Regions from separate parts of the Homo sapiens genome. Here region 1 is linked to region 2. Evidence: fine-mapped expression QTL. Tissue or cell type: left ventricle. Region 2 holds a variant in brackets; the other region holds the start of a gene. All regions are shown on one strand. Distances are from middle to middle.

Region 1 (8,000 bases), 31 kb before region 2:
CACGCACATCCTAAATTCATATGTGCAAGTCTAGTATAGAGAGTGTGAAATGTTACTTTTCTCAAGCAAACACTCTCCAACCGTTAAGTCTCACTTATTTTTTCTGGGTGTTCAGGGACCCTGACTGCCAAGAGATTTACCTCCCAGCTAGGCAAACATGATTTTGGCCTCCTTATTTCTTTGGCATCAGAAAGGTCTGCTACCCCTGTAAGTTTCCTGCTCTGTCCTCTCTAAGATAAGAACACAGCATGGCTGGGCTACCATCACCATCATCGCTGCAGCTCATGCTTGCCCAAGTGGTGTTGGCCCTTTCCCTACATTGTCTCTTTTAATAGCTGTAAGTAAAGGAGACTGTTGTTGTTGCCGTTGTCGTTTTGGGAAGGAAGGGATGCCTTCATGACAATCTTCCTCCAAGGAAAAAAAGTGATGACCATTTGAGAGAAATATCCTTACTCAGAGTAGTTTTTTTCAACATAATACACATACACTATGATTTATCTTCGTTTATTAATTACACCAAGTAAAAATGTGAGACGCCTCTGTTTCTTATAACCTAACTTTCTTTTAAAGAGAAAATGTCCTTCTTCAGTCGTAAATCCAAATTTACAATAGAAACTGTGTCCTCCAACTGCCAATATGACATCCAGGGCAAACTTTTTATAAAAGACACACAAACTCCTGGGTTTGTCATCAGTCAGTAGGTATGTATTTGAGGTGTCCCACATAGTATTTTGTAAAAACTTGAGTCAACCTTTTAAAATCAGGCATGTTCGCTGAAAATCCAGATTTCCAGTTTTCTTGAAAAACGGTTAAAGCCAAGCCAGGTCCTGACTTTATACTTGACAACAAGCAGCTGCAGCTGATTCCTTTGGATAGGACATGTGTGTTCCAGTTCCTTACAGATCCCATCACACACACTCACATCAGCTCTTACCTGCTTGTCCCTGGTAGGTCTTCAGATACAAGTTTGCACACCTTTGCACTTCTGATTTCACAGAGCCATTTGGGCTTATAAACTTGTAGTGTAATTTTTGAAAAAGAATTTAAATTCTTTTAGATAAATGTTAAAAGGGTGTGATGAAAGCTGCCTCATGACTGTTCTCTACTTTTTCAAGGTATCTCTCCTATCTTCAATTCCTTACATCTTCAATTCCTGAGCAGACCAGGACTGAAGTCTTAGGAACCTGAGGTCCAGAGGTCCTGGGTTCCAGAGACACAGATGTGGCAAGGCGAGTCACAGGACGCCCTGATAGGAACTGTGAGAGAATAGAAAGGGAAAGACCATTAAGGAAAAGGGAAGCCAGGAATGAAGGGGAGAGAGGTTGAGGAAAGGGAAAGGGGAGACTTACGTTTGCCTCTTAAACCGGGAGGTAAAGCCCACAATGAGGAGGAACAGCAAGCACGCCAGGACTGCCAAGGCAATCAAGCCCATGGAGGTGTAGCTCCCACCTGCTCTGGAGGAACATAGGCTGTCTCTCAGCACAGGACCCCTCTCTACATATATCCAATCCCCTGGTCTAGGCATGTGTGAGGGTACCAGGTGCTTCTTATTTCCTCCTCCACTTAAAACCCCAATTTCTATTCCTCATAAGTTTAGATTCCCCATCTTGTTTTCAGTGCCTGGGCATCCCAAATTCAGCCCACTTTGACATTTGCTAGTGTAGCATAGAGGGAAAGGGCAACAGCTTTGTAGCAAGGCAGACCTGAATCTAAATCCAGCCCGTCCACTTTCTATGTGGCTCCGGGCAGTTAACCTATCTCCGCCTTCATTTCCTCATCTATATAACGAAAAGAGCAGTACTTGCTTCAAAGAAAACTGTGAATGATGAGATGAGATATTATATGCAGATTCATTGGCCCCTACACAGGGAGCACTCAACCAACCAAGCTATCTTTGCTAACCTGCCTTCCCAAAGGCCTGGCTCCCTTTAAGCCAAGGAATGAATCGTCCTGGGATTGTTTATTCGCTGCCTACTTCTGGATCCCTGAGTTTTGTAGTCTTGTTTCTTCTTGTATATAGAGAGCACTATTTCAATCCTTTTAGACTTTCAGGTCTTTATTTCCCTCCTTCCTGTGTCTGGAACCCCTCTCTCTATCCTTTTACTGGGGGCCTCATCTCTGAAACTCCTCTAACCTGGGTATATCAAGCCACATCCCACCCCAGTGCCTCCCTCTATGCCTGAGGACCACCTCCTGCCATTTCCAGCTTGGGCCCAGCTTTTTCTCACCCCAGTAGAGGACGATGTCCTGGCCCTCTAGACTGCTGTGCTTCACCCGACAGGACAGGCCAGCTGCCTCCCCAGCCACCACATCCAGGGTTGCTCGGAGATACCATGTCTCGTCAGCATTGGGCAGGATGTCCCCTGGCTGAGTGCCCTGCTGCTCCTGCTCACCCCGCATCCACTTCACCCATACAGGCTTTGGGTAGAATCCTGAGACATGGCACACCAGCAGCAGACGGCCAGGGCCAGGACTGGGGCCACGGGACAGCCAGGCCTTGGGCTTCACTGTATCCAACAAGGGAATGGGGGGGATCTTAAAGTGAAAACTCTGCATTAGAGGCTCCAGGCCTCATATCATCCTTTTTGACTTTCAGGTCTTTATTTCCCTCCTTCCTGTATGCCCCTGACATGTTCACTTCTGGAAATGAAGTCTCCCACAACTTTCAATCCATTTGTCCCACCTTCTTCAGGGAGCCTGCCCTGATACTCCTTCTTCTTCTCTGGTCCCAGCCTCCTATGAATGCCCCTTGTCTGTTCCCCTATAACACCCTTTGTTTTGAAGTAACATATGTAGCCTATTTCAAGCATTGCATTAATTAACATCCCCCTACCAAGCAGGGATCCTAACTAACTGCCTGACACCTTTCACCCCCAGTTGTTCATTAATTGAATTCATAGAACCCAAGAGGTGCTCAGTTGATGTCTGTGAAATGAATAAATACCCTCACCCCTTATCCAGCCCCTCCTGGGCCTTCCTCTTCTTTGAATGCTCAAAGGGATGAGAACCCTGGAATGGAAAAGCCCGTTTGGAGCCCTGAAGTGGAATGCAGGGAGTAAGGAAGGCAGGCTGACCTTGCTTCTTCAGTTCCGACTTCCCTGACTCAAGGAGGCCACTGACAAATTGGGGGCAGGTGCCATTAAGGAGCCACTGCACTGTTTCCCTCGTCCACTTGTCCTGGTTGAGCACTTGAATGGCCAAGTTTACCCAAAGTGGGGCCTCTTGGGTTGGCTCCCAAGAAGTTCCTTGGAAACTCAGGATATCTTTTCCTTGAAATGCTACATGGAAGAAGTTATTTGAGGCGTTCCCAGGGTGCACCTCACAGCCAGCGGACACCTGGAGCTCCAAGGGATCTGTGGAGAGGAATGGAGAAAGATCAAAGAAGGGTTTAAAAGACTGGGAGAGATGAAAGAGAAGAAATTGATGTGCAGGTTATAATGGGGACCCAGACTTCAGGGAAAGGAAAGTAAGTGACCTGGAGTAGGCAGGAACGAGGGACACTTTGAGGAGTCAAAGCCTGGGACATCTCCAGGTAGAAGGGAAATCAGAAGAGGGTGGACAGAGCAGAGAATCTCATCAGGTGGTGCCACAGTCTCCCAGTTGAGTTTCTGTGGCCATTCTCTCCCCTTGGGTACCGGCCCAGGATCCTATCCCTCAGCTCACAGGATAAGCGTAGCATTTTGGCGAATTCCTTCACGTCCCTGGTGAAGCTGCTTCGATAAACCCGAAATATATGCTGCAGCGTCTCCCACTGCTGGTCGCTGAACGTGCCCTGGGACCAAGGCTTCAGAGAGCGGACGGTGTCCGAGTCGTTGCTCCAGCTGTGCGTCTGCAGCTCCCCCAGCCACGCCAAGCCGTCGGTGCGCGTCCAGCTGCTATTGGCGAAGGACGAGATCTGGAGGCAGCGGAGGGGGAAAAGCCTTTGCGGGACTGGGAGAGAATGAAGATTGGAGGCGTGTAGCAAGTGGCCGGGAGAGCAGCCAGCATAAAGAGAAGGAAGAAAGAAACAAGAGGAGATGAGCTTCAGGAGGCGGCTGATGCCAGCGAACTCTGTGCCGCGCTGCCTCTCCCCGGAGCCAGGGAGCAGCGAGTTTTCTACCTAGATCGCGCCAGTGCGTCCCGGGTCTCACCAGTCCCCATCAGGCGTTGCCCTCCCCGTCCCTACCCAGCTCCCTCTCTCCGCCCTCCCGCGAGTGCACTCAAGCGCCCTCGTTCCACCCACCTTCAGCGCTTCCCCAAGCCTGGAGGAGCGCCCAGAGCAGCAGAAACAGCAGGCACCCCATATCGCCCGGCGTGGGGACCTCGCGGAGCGCCGCTGCGCGCCGCCCTCTGACCTGCGCACTCTTCTCCCCCGCCGCTCAGCTCACGTCCCTTTCCGCTGGGTGCCAGCCAATTCCCAAGCCCAGACCCCGGCAGCCCTCCTCGCTGGGCTTGCCGGCGGTTTGCTGCTTCTGCCGAAGGGCGCCCTCGCCCTTAGCTGTGCGAGCTGCAAAGAGGTCGGGGTCCCAGGAATCCTGGCGCCGCCGCTCACTTCAGTAGGTTTCACAACCGGCGTGTCTCAATTTCCTGTTTCAAAGGAGACTTTGGGTCAACGTGTGGGACGCTTTACAACCATTATTTATGTTTTGGAAGCAGGACATAAGGTTGTGTCTGTGTTACAATTCCAACCATGGTAAAAATGCAAAGGGAAAAAAGGATCAAAGTCCTTGCTTTAGCAGTACATGTCTCTAGGTGGAAAGACTATGAGTGATCTTAATTTGCTTTACATCTTTATGTTTTCCAAAATTTCTCAAGTGCAAGTACCACATTTACAATAAAGTAAACGCATGAAAATTAATTTCCTCAGTTGCACATTGAGAGAACTGGATTAGGTTGGCTACAATTCTTTACAACTGTCATATCCCAGGATTCCTCCACCTCAGTGTTCCCTAGCCTCTCTTTCCTCCTGTCATGGTCCTTGCTCTCCCCTCCCCGGCCTCTGCTCTGTCTTCCCTGTCTCCTTTTTGGGGACGCGCCCCCAGACTCTCTTCCTCCTCTCCGCCCTAGGCTCTGCCGGCATACCTTCTCCTCTGGCTCCTGACTCATTCACTTTCCAAATATGCGCCTCTGTCTTAAACAGTAAGTGTAAGATGACAGTGTGTACCTGGACAGCCAACTCGCCACTTCTCACACTGAAAATAAGAAAAAGTGACCAAAAATCGTGGTTCTAAGCCTTAGCTCACCTGGAGGAAAAGACTCCTCTTTGGCAACTCAGAACCTGGGCTGCAGCCTGACACCTCCCTCTCCCTCACTCTTTTTATCCAATCTATCTCCAACTCATCTCTATTTCACTTCTTTTTGAATACCTCTTGAATAAATTCCTTTTTCTATATTTCCACCGTCACCATCACCCTAACCTTTTGACTGATCTCCTGAAGTAGCATTCTTGGGTAGAAAACAAAATCATTAGCACGGCCTGCAAGATTATGCGCCCTCTAGCCCTGGTGTCTACCTTTTGACATCACCTCACACCCCAGCATCATTTGCTCTGTACTGTAGCCTGGCTGTTAGCTTTCAGTTCCTCCACTATGCAAAACCTCTTCCTGACTAAGGTCTCTGCACAAAGTTCCCTCTACATGAAAGCTCTTGACCTTCTCCTCACCTCACCCCCTCCCAATGCCTAGTTATTTCCACTAAGGTATCAGTTCCAAGGTCACTTTCTCAGGGAAGTCTTTCCAGATCTGCCAGACTGTGTGACCCTAGGCAGGAGAAGTAGGGCAGTCCCAACCTCCACTGCTTGTACACTAACTGGCTTTGAGAAGCCATCCTCTCAGCATGTAGCAGAGTTTATAATTATAGAAATGGCCATATGTCTGTCTCCCTCTGTGTCCTCTTCTAAATCAGCTGGAGAGGTGCCAGAAGGCAAGGATCATGTCTCCATAATCTGATTCCTCCCATTCTGCTAACGTTAATGTTTCCCTTCTCCCATATCCTGTTGCAGCAAGAGTCCTAGAGAAAATAGGCTACTGCACCACACTCTAGGCTGGGATCTTGTAGACAGCCCTAACCCAGCCTATCTAATTATGTGTAATTTGCCCAAAAAAGCTTAAAATAACATAGTAACGTGTTCTTGTAACAAATAAGGTGTTAAATTATTAAATTTGGATACAAAATTGCCTAAATAATGGATAGGAGGGAAGCTATGAGAAATAAAAAGAAAAATAATTATATGACTCATGGGGCAATATTTTTAACTTTACTTTCTTCAAATTTCCAAGCTCCCTTTAAAAACTTGAACAGTTCTGTTTAGTTTTTGTGTATCTTAAAAATTTTAAGTGCTAACATTCTTGCACACTTAAAGACAAGAAGCTGGTTTGTGTGTGTGTGTGTGGTTTTTTTGTTTTTGTTTGTTTATCAACAGAGGCCAGGCTATATTACCTTCAGAAGTTAGGACTATCTGGAATTATACGGATATTTTTTCCCAAAGGTCAGTTGAGTTAGACACTTTTTGGCTATTGGAACTTTCACTGCTTTTTTTCTGGGAAAGGAACCATTGAATTATGAAACGTTTTGCAATATGTTACCTAAACAAAATATTTTATAACAAGACTGACTCAGAATACCCTAGCACAGAGAGATGGTGATTTACTCAGAGCCTTAAAATAAGCCCACGGTGGGTACTACATGATCTCACTTATATGTGGACTCTAAAATAGTTTACTATTTTATGGAAACAGAGTTAGGGTAGTGGTTTCCAGGAGCTGGAGGGAAGGGGCAAATGTGTTAATTTTGGTCAAAGGGTTTCAGCCTCTCAATTTTGAGAGGCTGACCAAAACCTTGGAGCCTGATCATAAGGGACTTACTTGGTTTCAGTTCAGAATTCACAATTCACAACGTCAAATTAGTTGGAATCTTATATGCTTTCTTCATGTTTTTGTTATCCTAACCATAAGGAGACCATTTAATGTACAAAGGATAGCTGCATATGAGAATTTAAGATTCTTGAGAGGACACATCAGGGAAACTTTTATAATAGCTATCAGGAGGATAATACCAACGAACTAAAGAACTCTTCTTAATAGCACTTTCCACAAGCCAACCTGATCAAAATCAAACAATTCAAAGTTCAGTCAATAAAGTTTAACAGCATTCAAGTGCAATTGCTCATAGTCTTTATTCAGAGCATAATGGTGATCAAGGACCGTAGTTTGCTGTAAAATGGCCTGATTTAAAGAGGTATTCATTTTTGTAAGTAGCCTGATAATACAAACCACAGTAACCTGGAGATCCACTAAAAGAAACATAAGGATTAGAAAACCTTGTGATAGCTCTCTTACCTCTCGGACGTCCAGTCCCAGGAGCAAAACTCCAGCGACTTTGGGCCCCGCCCCCGTGAAAGTGGAGGGCGGCCGATGAGGACGGTTCTGAGGGAACTAGACCAATGAGACTAGCCTGGGGCGGGGCGCGGGGCCAGAGGGTGGGGCAGGTGGCGGCGATGGCAGTCCGAGGTCTGGCTCCGCGCAGTATATGACAGTACGCCAGCAGCGGGATGGCCCTAGCAGTGGCGGCGGCTGCAGAAGCCCAAGCAGCTGCGGCCGCAGTGGAGGCTGGAGCTGGACTGGCGGCGGCGGCACCTCTGGGAGTTTAAGATGTCGGGGGTGGGGGGGTCGCGGGGCAGCGCTATGGGCTCTCGTGCGGACGGCTGGGGCAGGACAACATCACCGTACTGCATGTGAAGCTCACCGAGTCGGCGATCCAGGCGCTCCAGACTTACCAGAGCCACAAGAATTTAATTTCTTTTCGACCTTCAATTCAGTTCCAAAGACTCCAGGAGCTTGTCAAAATTCCCAAAAATGATCCCCTCAATGAAGTTCATAACTTTAACTTTTATTTGTCAAATGTGGGCAAAGACAACCCTCAGGGCAGCTTTGACTGCGTCCAGCAAACATTCTCCAGCTCTGGAGCCTCCCAGCTCAATTGCCTGGGATTTATACAAGATAAAATTACAGTGTGTGCAACAA
Region 2 (8,263 bases):
GAAAAGTTTTCACTGGGCCTAGAAAGAATCCTTAGACCCAAAAGAAAGAGGATAAAACAAATGAATAACTGGCAAAAGGAAAAATGTACGCTTGACTTCATAGCATCTCTGAAAAGAAAACTAAACTCAGAAGTACCATTTTGAGTAAAATTGTTCTTCCCTTTCTTGCTTCCCCTTCTGCTGTACAGTTTCTTTTCCCAACAATCTTTTCCTCAAATAGAGTTGTATGAGCCACCTGGGGAGAGTCAAAGGAAGGTTGGTGTGTAACCCCAGGGAATTCCCAATATGAGGGAATTCAAGTGAAAATGAAATGAACAGAGGGAAACTATTTAGTGACAAAGAATCTAAATTCCAGCTTCTGAATCCCAGAGCCATTTTTCAGACATTAATATGAAAAGAGAAAATACTGGCAATATTGAGGCCATCATAAAGAATATGCTTTTACAATGAATTAGGCAGAGGAACAAGGAGTGGTTTTTTGGTGTGCCTTGCTCCAGGGCACCTACATCTATCCGGGAAGACATGTCATAATTAATATAGCTTAAAGGGTGGCAGAAATTGAACAGGCAGTGAAATGAGGAAGATTTCTAGTGCCTCCTAAATGGGGACTTCACATTGTGGTGTCGTGATATGCTAGGAAGTAGTATGAATTCCCAACATTAAATATAATCAAATGAAAACACTACTCCCAAACTAAAGAAAGATGAGCCTCTTCACAAGTCTATTCTCTTCACAGGATGTAAGGATGACTCAGAGTTGATCATCCTTACAAAAATGGCCTACAATTCAATATCAGCAACAAGCAAGAAACTATTCTATTCAGAGAATATTCAGAGAAATTCCATTTTCAAGTGATACTAACTCAAGACCTACAGAGTCTTCATATTTATTTTAATTTCATAAAATAAGCCTAAGGCTGGAAGAAAAATATATAGACACTTCCGACAGATTTTGATACTAAAAGCAATCATCCATATCCAGCACCTTTCCATGTAGCCAGTGACGAGCAAGCTGGGTTTAACTAAGCAAAATGTATGAACATAAATGGTGGGGGAAAAACTCAGATCTGTGGAAAAATGATGGGGACTAATGGGGGACGGGAAGCACAGAGCTGTGAAAAAATGACGGGGAAGAGGGAAGCAAGAAGGTTTAAAGGGGTTTAGCAAAAACAAGAGCTTTACATTCACTCATCTACTCATACTGACTGTATGCCAGGTACTAGGAACACAATGCTGAATAGGACATATTCCATGTCTGCATGGAGATTACAACTAGTAAGGTGGATATACACCTAAGCCTGACATAATACAGCATAATTAAGTACTAAAGTCGGGGCAAACCAACTTGAGGAAAGACCCCTTAACCCATCATGGGGTGTGAGAGGTCACGAAAAGCATCCCAGAGTAAAGAAGGTCAGAAGCCAAGGCAAATGCCAAGGTGAAAGGCATTGTGAACAAATCTCCTTTCCTACTCACCTAATGTCCTTTTTACTTTCACTTATGGCCCAGACAAAAGGCGATGATCAAAAGAGGTGGGTAAACGGACCAGAGGATGAAACCAGCTGAAACCATGATGTTATAATCACACATACAACTATGTGAAAATTTGAGAATACAGGAGGGAGAGTGTAACTCTGAGACTGACAGAGGTGATGTTTAGGCCAAATAGTGGAGGTTGGGTAAAAAAAAAAATGGCAAGAGAATCGTAGTGGGAGACATTGACAGAGTATTCATGGCTGATCGATTTCATCAGCCCAAACAGAACTGTCACCTAGAGTCCACTGCTCAAATTGGCTCCTTTTATTTTTTCCTGGTAAACTAGCCAACATATGTGGAGTATGCTCAATTGCCCCTTCTAGAAGGCCTTAAAAAAAAAAGTGTTTTTTTTCTCTCTTCAGTATTTTATTTGATGTTTCTGTTAGATTTCTTATCCCTAAGCAATGGCAGAAAAATATGTTTGCCAATATACAATCAGCTCTGAGAGTCAAATGAAAACTGTCCTTCTTTACATGTATAGGTTTCTCCAGTGCTGCATGAGGGCGCAGTTGTGCTCAACTTTTTCTCAAGGTCAATACTACATTTATAGATTTCTTCACCATTGAGGATTTTGGTGTTGGATGAAATGAAGGCACCAAAAGATGCTTCACAGCATTGGACATAATATATGGGACTTCTCCTTCAAGTGGATTCTCTTGAAGCTGAGGAAGGACGGCACACTAAGTGAAGATCTTCCCACTTACTGCCTGCACAGACCCACTCCCCTGAAGAATGCTTCTGTGGAACAATCACATCTTAGGGGAAATCACTGACATATTCTTCTTGGTGAGTTGCCGTCTATCTTTCACTGTCTTCCTGTTGCTGAACAATTTACAGATTGGAGGATGTACAGCATTTATGGACCTTTCTTGTAATATTTCAGTATACTGTGATACCCTGGAAATGTCCTGCTAACCAAACCTGAGTAAAAAAAGAAAAAAAAATACATGTCTCAAATGTATATTAGTATTATGGGAATCCAACATTTTTGAGAATTCAAAACAAAGGAAGAAAACCAAAATGAGGTATAGCCAAATTTCCAACTTCCTTCCTTCCTTCTTTCTCTTTTTTTTTTTTTTTTTGGAGACAGTATCTCACTCTGTCGCCAAGGCTGGAGTGCAGTAGCATGATTATGGCTCTCTCTGCAGTCTTGACCTCCCAGACTCAAGCGATCCTCCCACCTCAGCCTCCCGAGTAGCTGGGACCACAGGTCCAGTCACCACCATGTCTGGCTAGTTTTTGTATTTTTTGTATAGATGGGGTTTCACCATTTTGCTCAGGCTGGTCTCAAACTCCTGGGTTCTGGTCAACTTTCATTCATCCATTATCACTCTCCACTTTCAACTATTACTCTACATATTTTTTAAATGAAAAATAGTATTGGTTTTATTGCATATTTCATGCTTTGAAAGAGATAATAAGCAGATTCTGGAAGTTCTTTGAAAATACAACCATGGTGTTTTTGAGAGCTAGACTAAAATATGACTTTAACATGATATACAAAAGAAATAGCTTGGGTCAGAACAAAGGGAAGGGGGCCTTAAGAATGGGAAGTGGAGTGTATAACAGAGAAAGATGTGAAGAAGCAAAATACTTTGGAATTAGCTGGGGTAGGTATGGGAAGGAGCAGAAGCACACACAGAAAGGTAAAAGATAAATCGATGTCATTCTGCAATGTTGCTCACCTGTATATCTGTGTTCTCTACAACTGAACTCTCAGCATCTAAGATTCTAACTAATGCATCCCCACCACAGAGCTCACAGACCTCTGCACACAGCCAGCACTAAAGAGTTTTTGAGGGCACAAGAAGTTTTACTCTCTCTTCCCCCTCTTTCACCATATATCTCCCTGACGACTTCTTCAAACCTAATACATCAGTTTCCTCTCTTTTTCCAATTTGTTTCACTTCCCACTCTCTGACCTAGAAGTCAACCCAGGGTTAGGTCCTCTGTTAAATGACAGGCTGTGGAGGCCAGAGACAAAATGGCAGGTCTGAGAGTTCCTATCTAAGGCCACCAGACTTCAAAGAAGCAAAGAGGCTACAGAGAGGTAGAACATAGAGGTGGAACCAGAAGAGACAAGGATCGGAAGAGAAGCAGAAATAAGTGAAATGAAGTAGGATGGTTCCGATCTGCTCGTGCCTAAAAACATTTACTGTGGGATCCTTTTCTTAGGGTCCTTGGCGTGACTCCTGGGGCAAGGGCAGAGTGTTAGAGGAGCCCTGTCTAGGACAAAAACAAGAAAAGGTACTCACGAGGGAGAGAAGGATGAAGATTCCAGGAACTGCGTGTGAGAAAGAGGACAGAAACAGAGTATTTAAGACTAGTCGGAGCTAGTATGAAATAATAAAGGGAATCTGTAGGTATTATAGAGGGAAGCCAAAGATGTGGGAGGAACTGAGCGTTAACGAAGGCAAGGCAGAAAGTGACCCTAGAAATGCTGTCGGGTTTCCAGTCCCTGCTCACACTTCATTCAATGTCTCATCCAAAAGAGAAACAGCAGAATTAAGCCACACCCACGTAGCTAGTCCACACTCGATTCCCCCGTGCAAGCAACTTTTTCTCAAATGATTTTCTCAAAAATCTTCGTGACTCAACTAGTCGCGAAGATTTCCTCTTAAAAGAACAAACTGCTACCACCCTGCAAAAACTACAACACCCATAGTGCCCCGCGCACAGCCCGAGTGACCCATTCTCTTCCGATTCCCACCAGCTAACGGTCTTAGCCAATTTCCTCGGCCGGGAAATGATTTGGAGCACATGCGCACTTCCCCTCCTTGTCCTGG[G/T]CTGGCCTCCAACTTGGAACGCCGGCGAACCGCCTGACCTCTTCCGGCGGCCTCAGCCTGGGACGCATGCGCACATCGAGGCTCCCCGACATCAGGCGCGGGTCTTTAATTACATATTTTGCTATGCTCCAGGCTATGCATTTGGAACAGTGCTTTCCTTTTTATCTTTATTTTGTTTCTTTTGCTTAACTTCGGGATGCAGCAATGAAGTGTTATTAAAAGAGCCCTAAAGCTGAGAGTGAAATTTGGACTCTGTAACAAACCAGCTGTGGGGTCTTAAGCAAGTCACTTAAACGTGGGGACCTCGGCCTCCAAACCAGATGACACTCGAGGCACAGCCTGCCTCCTATCGCTGCTGGAAAGACTGTGGAAATGGTACTGTTGGTGCCCATAGACCTCCAGACCCCCATGGGACAGCAGCTGGGCATTCCTCCACCATTGAATGAAGTGTGAGCAGGGACTGGAAACCGGACAGCAATTCTAGGGCCAGTTGGAAGGAGAGGTAGGGAAAGAGAAGCTTCCTTCGCCTTTCCCTCGAGCCCACGTCTCATCAGTAAGCAATTCCTGACAGTTCTCCACCTACATATCTTCCCACTTTTCTCCATCCACACTGCCATTTCTCTATCTCCACTGCCATACCATTTTCTCTTGCTTAAATGATTTCCCTGTTTCTAGTCCCTACCCTACCGGCTGTGGGATCATTCTAAGATGCAAATTTGATCATTAAAATATTTCATGGCTTCTCTTGGCCCACAGAATAAAGTCCGAACACCTTAACAAGGCTGTCATTGCCTGACTTCTTCCTAGTCTTCCAGACTTCCTTCTCTCCCTCTGTGTTCCAGTCATCTTCAGAAACTATCAGTTTAACAAACCAGGCTGCCTCTTACTTCAAAGACTTTTTGCATGTAGAAACAACTTAATGAACATTCTGAACTCTGCTGAACATATTCTCAATGAGGTTTTAACCAGTGCCTTCAACCATACTCTCAGTTCTTCCAGCCCTGACGGATTCTGTAGTTTTCTGTTTACTTAATTATTAGAAGTCCAGTCTAATGCAGTCCACTTAAAATCTTACATCTCATTTCAAGTTTTGCAGTGAGATTTGCAAAACTTCCTTCCTTCCCCTCAGCACCAGCCAGACTTGAGCAGTGGAGCTTGGTTTGGGGAAGTGGTGTATTCTGTCCTTTAATAGAAGTCTGCCTTTCCCAAAAATACTTATTGTGTTGGGACCCTGAGGAAAAATCAGGGAGGGCTGGGAAGTGAGGGCCAAAAGTCATTTTGCCTAACTGGGCATTTAATTGCAATTGTCTGTTGGTTCTCTCCACCTCTCAGTTGAAGGCTGATTGGTCACGAATACCTTCCATTTGGAAGGTACCCAAATGCTAGTTCTTAATAGGCACATGGGTTAGTTCCCTGGGAGCTCTCCCCAGTACACAATTCCTTGATGGGAGATCTGCTGCAGCTTAAAACTGTTACTGGTAGAGGGTCTTGACTGCAAGTTGTCCAGATTTTTGGCGTTTTCAACAAAGGATTGGACAAAACGCACAGCAAAGCAAGGAAAGAAGGAACAAAAGCAGAGATTTATTGAAAGTGGAAGTACACTCCACAGTGTGGGAGCAGGCTGAGCAGAGGCTCAAGGGCTCTGATGCAGCATTTTCTTGGGTCCAAATACCCCCTAGAGGTTTCCCATCGGCCACTTGGTGTTCACCCCATGTAAATGAAGTGGTGGCCCACAATCAGTCTGATTGGTTGTGGAAAACAACCAATCAGAGGCTGAAGTGAAGTTACAAAGTTACACTCCTATGCAAACATCTGATTGATTGCAAAAAGCAACCAATCAGAGGTACTTTCAGTTTCCCATCTGCCCTGCAGAAAAGGTAGGAGTTTTTAAAGGGAGCAGCTTCTGGTCCTTTTGTTACTTAGGCGTGGAAAGTTAAGGCTTTCCTTTCAATTTAGTTCTAAGGAAGTCGGCATGAAACCGCCTTAGGTTCCTTGCCTTCAGACCCTATTCTCCTGCCTCATAACTACTTCCCACAACCCCTCAGCCCTGCTCTTGGTGGTATAACTAGGTTCCCTGGCTTGGCAGCCAATTCTCTTGGAAGGAGAACCGGCAAGATGGCCCACACCCTGTTGAGTTTCACACTGTTCATTTAACTCACAGTAAACTCACACCGATTTCCACACTGTTCATTTGACTCACACATCCTTGCTAAACCAAGTGGTAAGAGTGATAGCTCTTTCCCTGTCATCCTTCTCTCCCTGCTCTAGTGATCACAGAGTACAGATCAACAAGCTCATCAGCAGATATCCAACCAGAGATTGAGATAACAGTCTCTTCTTGCCAGCCCACCAATTTCTATGAGTGATTCTCTTGGAGACCCCTCACTTGGAGGAGGTGAGAACAAAAGTCACATCACTCATTTCCGTGGCTGGGTACACACGACTCCATCAGTGCCCTTTCTCTTTTTACCTCCATATTATCTTCTAGGGGATGGTTTTAAATCTAGGAGATGTTAAGGATGGGGAGCTGTAGTATGGTTCGGGGTAGCAGAACTAACTTTCCACTTTTAATGGCACCTCTAGGATGTTAGCGCAGGACAATATATTCCAAGTGGCCTTGGACAAACCCAGTTCTCCTCTCTTTCTTGCTTGTTATTCTCAAGAAAAACTGTAAAATGTGCTGGGAATACAATATCCTGAGAAAGGAAGGAACCGCTTGAAATAGACTGGGCCTCCTTGTTCCTGTCCCTCCTAGGGAATGTAACATCTGGAGTTAGAGAGGAGGTGCCAGGGACAGCCCAGGCTTTGTACCTCTCTCCCCTGGAAGCAGGATGCCCTTCCCAGCTTTGTCCAGTGAGTCACATGACCCCTGAGGTATATAACTCATAGTGGGCTGCCTTTTGGGGCCCCTCACTTGTGGTGCACATGGGGCATGTACGGGCAACACTCAATCCTGCCCAGGAAGCTTCCTTGAGCCTTGAGGGCTGCCTCACAATGGATCCTAGGCTTCTTTTTTCCCTTGCTGCTTGCCTGTAAGTAATAATCCCACCTCACAAAATTTGTTGCATGTGAGTGTATCTCCAGCAGACATTGGTAGACCTTCAGGCCAGGATGTAGTGGGCAGAAGTGTGTGGGCTCCTATTTCTGTCGATTGGCATAGTGTCGATCTCTGCTGTCCTGCTTGTAGTGGGAGTCTTCTCTTGGGATTGGTTATTAGTGAACCTGCCTCACAAAATTGATGCTATGAGCAGGGTCTGATCTGACAGAACCATGGCTTTCTGGTGAAGTGGGACGGTGATATCCCCCTGTATCTGACCCAAGGCAGAGATGTCAGCCTGGGCATTCAGGAACTGACGGGACATGCAGCTGGATGAGTCATGGGGAGGGAAGGATGATAAGCGAAACATAGTCTCCCCACCTCCCCTGCAGATGGGAGTGAGCTGGCTGCATAGACCGAGGAGAGGGTATGGAATGTAGAAACAGGATAGAGCAGTGTACAATTCCCTGGGTGTTGGGCACTTACGTAATCGCTCATTCCCAGGCCAGAGAGCTTGGGAAGTGGGTATTCTGATGGACCCTGAGGCACTTGAGAGAGAATGGGAAAGAGGTCCTCAGACAGTCCCTGGAACATCTGAGAGGGAACCAACACACACAGGGTGGGTCTTCACAGATGGGGAGACCGCCTATCTAAAGGATGGATATGGAGGAAGGCCAGGGAAGTCTTACGCAGCCTGGGCGGTGTGTTTGATAAAGGACACTGCAGACCCAAATGTCTCAGGCTGAATGGTGCAGTTAGAAATGGAGCCAAGGTCTCTGGGTCCCCACTGAGTACCAATGGCTCCATACTCCTGTCAGGATAAAAGGGGGAAGGAGAAGGATTCAGACTTTTCTGGGGTTCTTGTGCCCTGGGGCCCACATTACAATATTTCCAGGTCCCCTTAG

What was found. PIP is the estimated chance that this variant, and not a neighbour inherited with it, causes the effect.
Region 1: it holds the start of CD1D, and the variant in region 2 is fine-mapped to the expression of CD1D in left ventricle (GTEx, PIP 0.97).

The regions. Positions count from the first base shown.
Region 1 is chr1:158,177,385-158,185,384 of GRCh38, reverse strand. CD1D (CD1d molecule) reads right to left here and starts at 4,490. Exons shown (of 6, transcript NM_001371762.2): 1 at 4,223-4,490; 2 at 3,664-3,930; 3 at 3,075-3,353; 4 at 2,229-2,507; 5 at 1,350-1,449; 6 at 1-1,256. The coding sequence starts at 4,283. The coding sequence ends at 1,235. It also overlaps the pseudogene ELL2P1. RefSeq lists an enhancer at 3,960-4,019 and a silencer at 5,432-5,481.
Region 2 is chr1:158,145,857-158,154,119 of GRCh38, reverse strand. The region is part of intron 1 of LOC105371460 (a long non-coding RNA gene); the gene reads right to left. Among named protein-coding and RNA genes, the nearest start is that of LINC01704, 9.3 kb to the right of the region's middle. The variant G/T (reference allele first, on the strand shown) is at 4,322.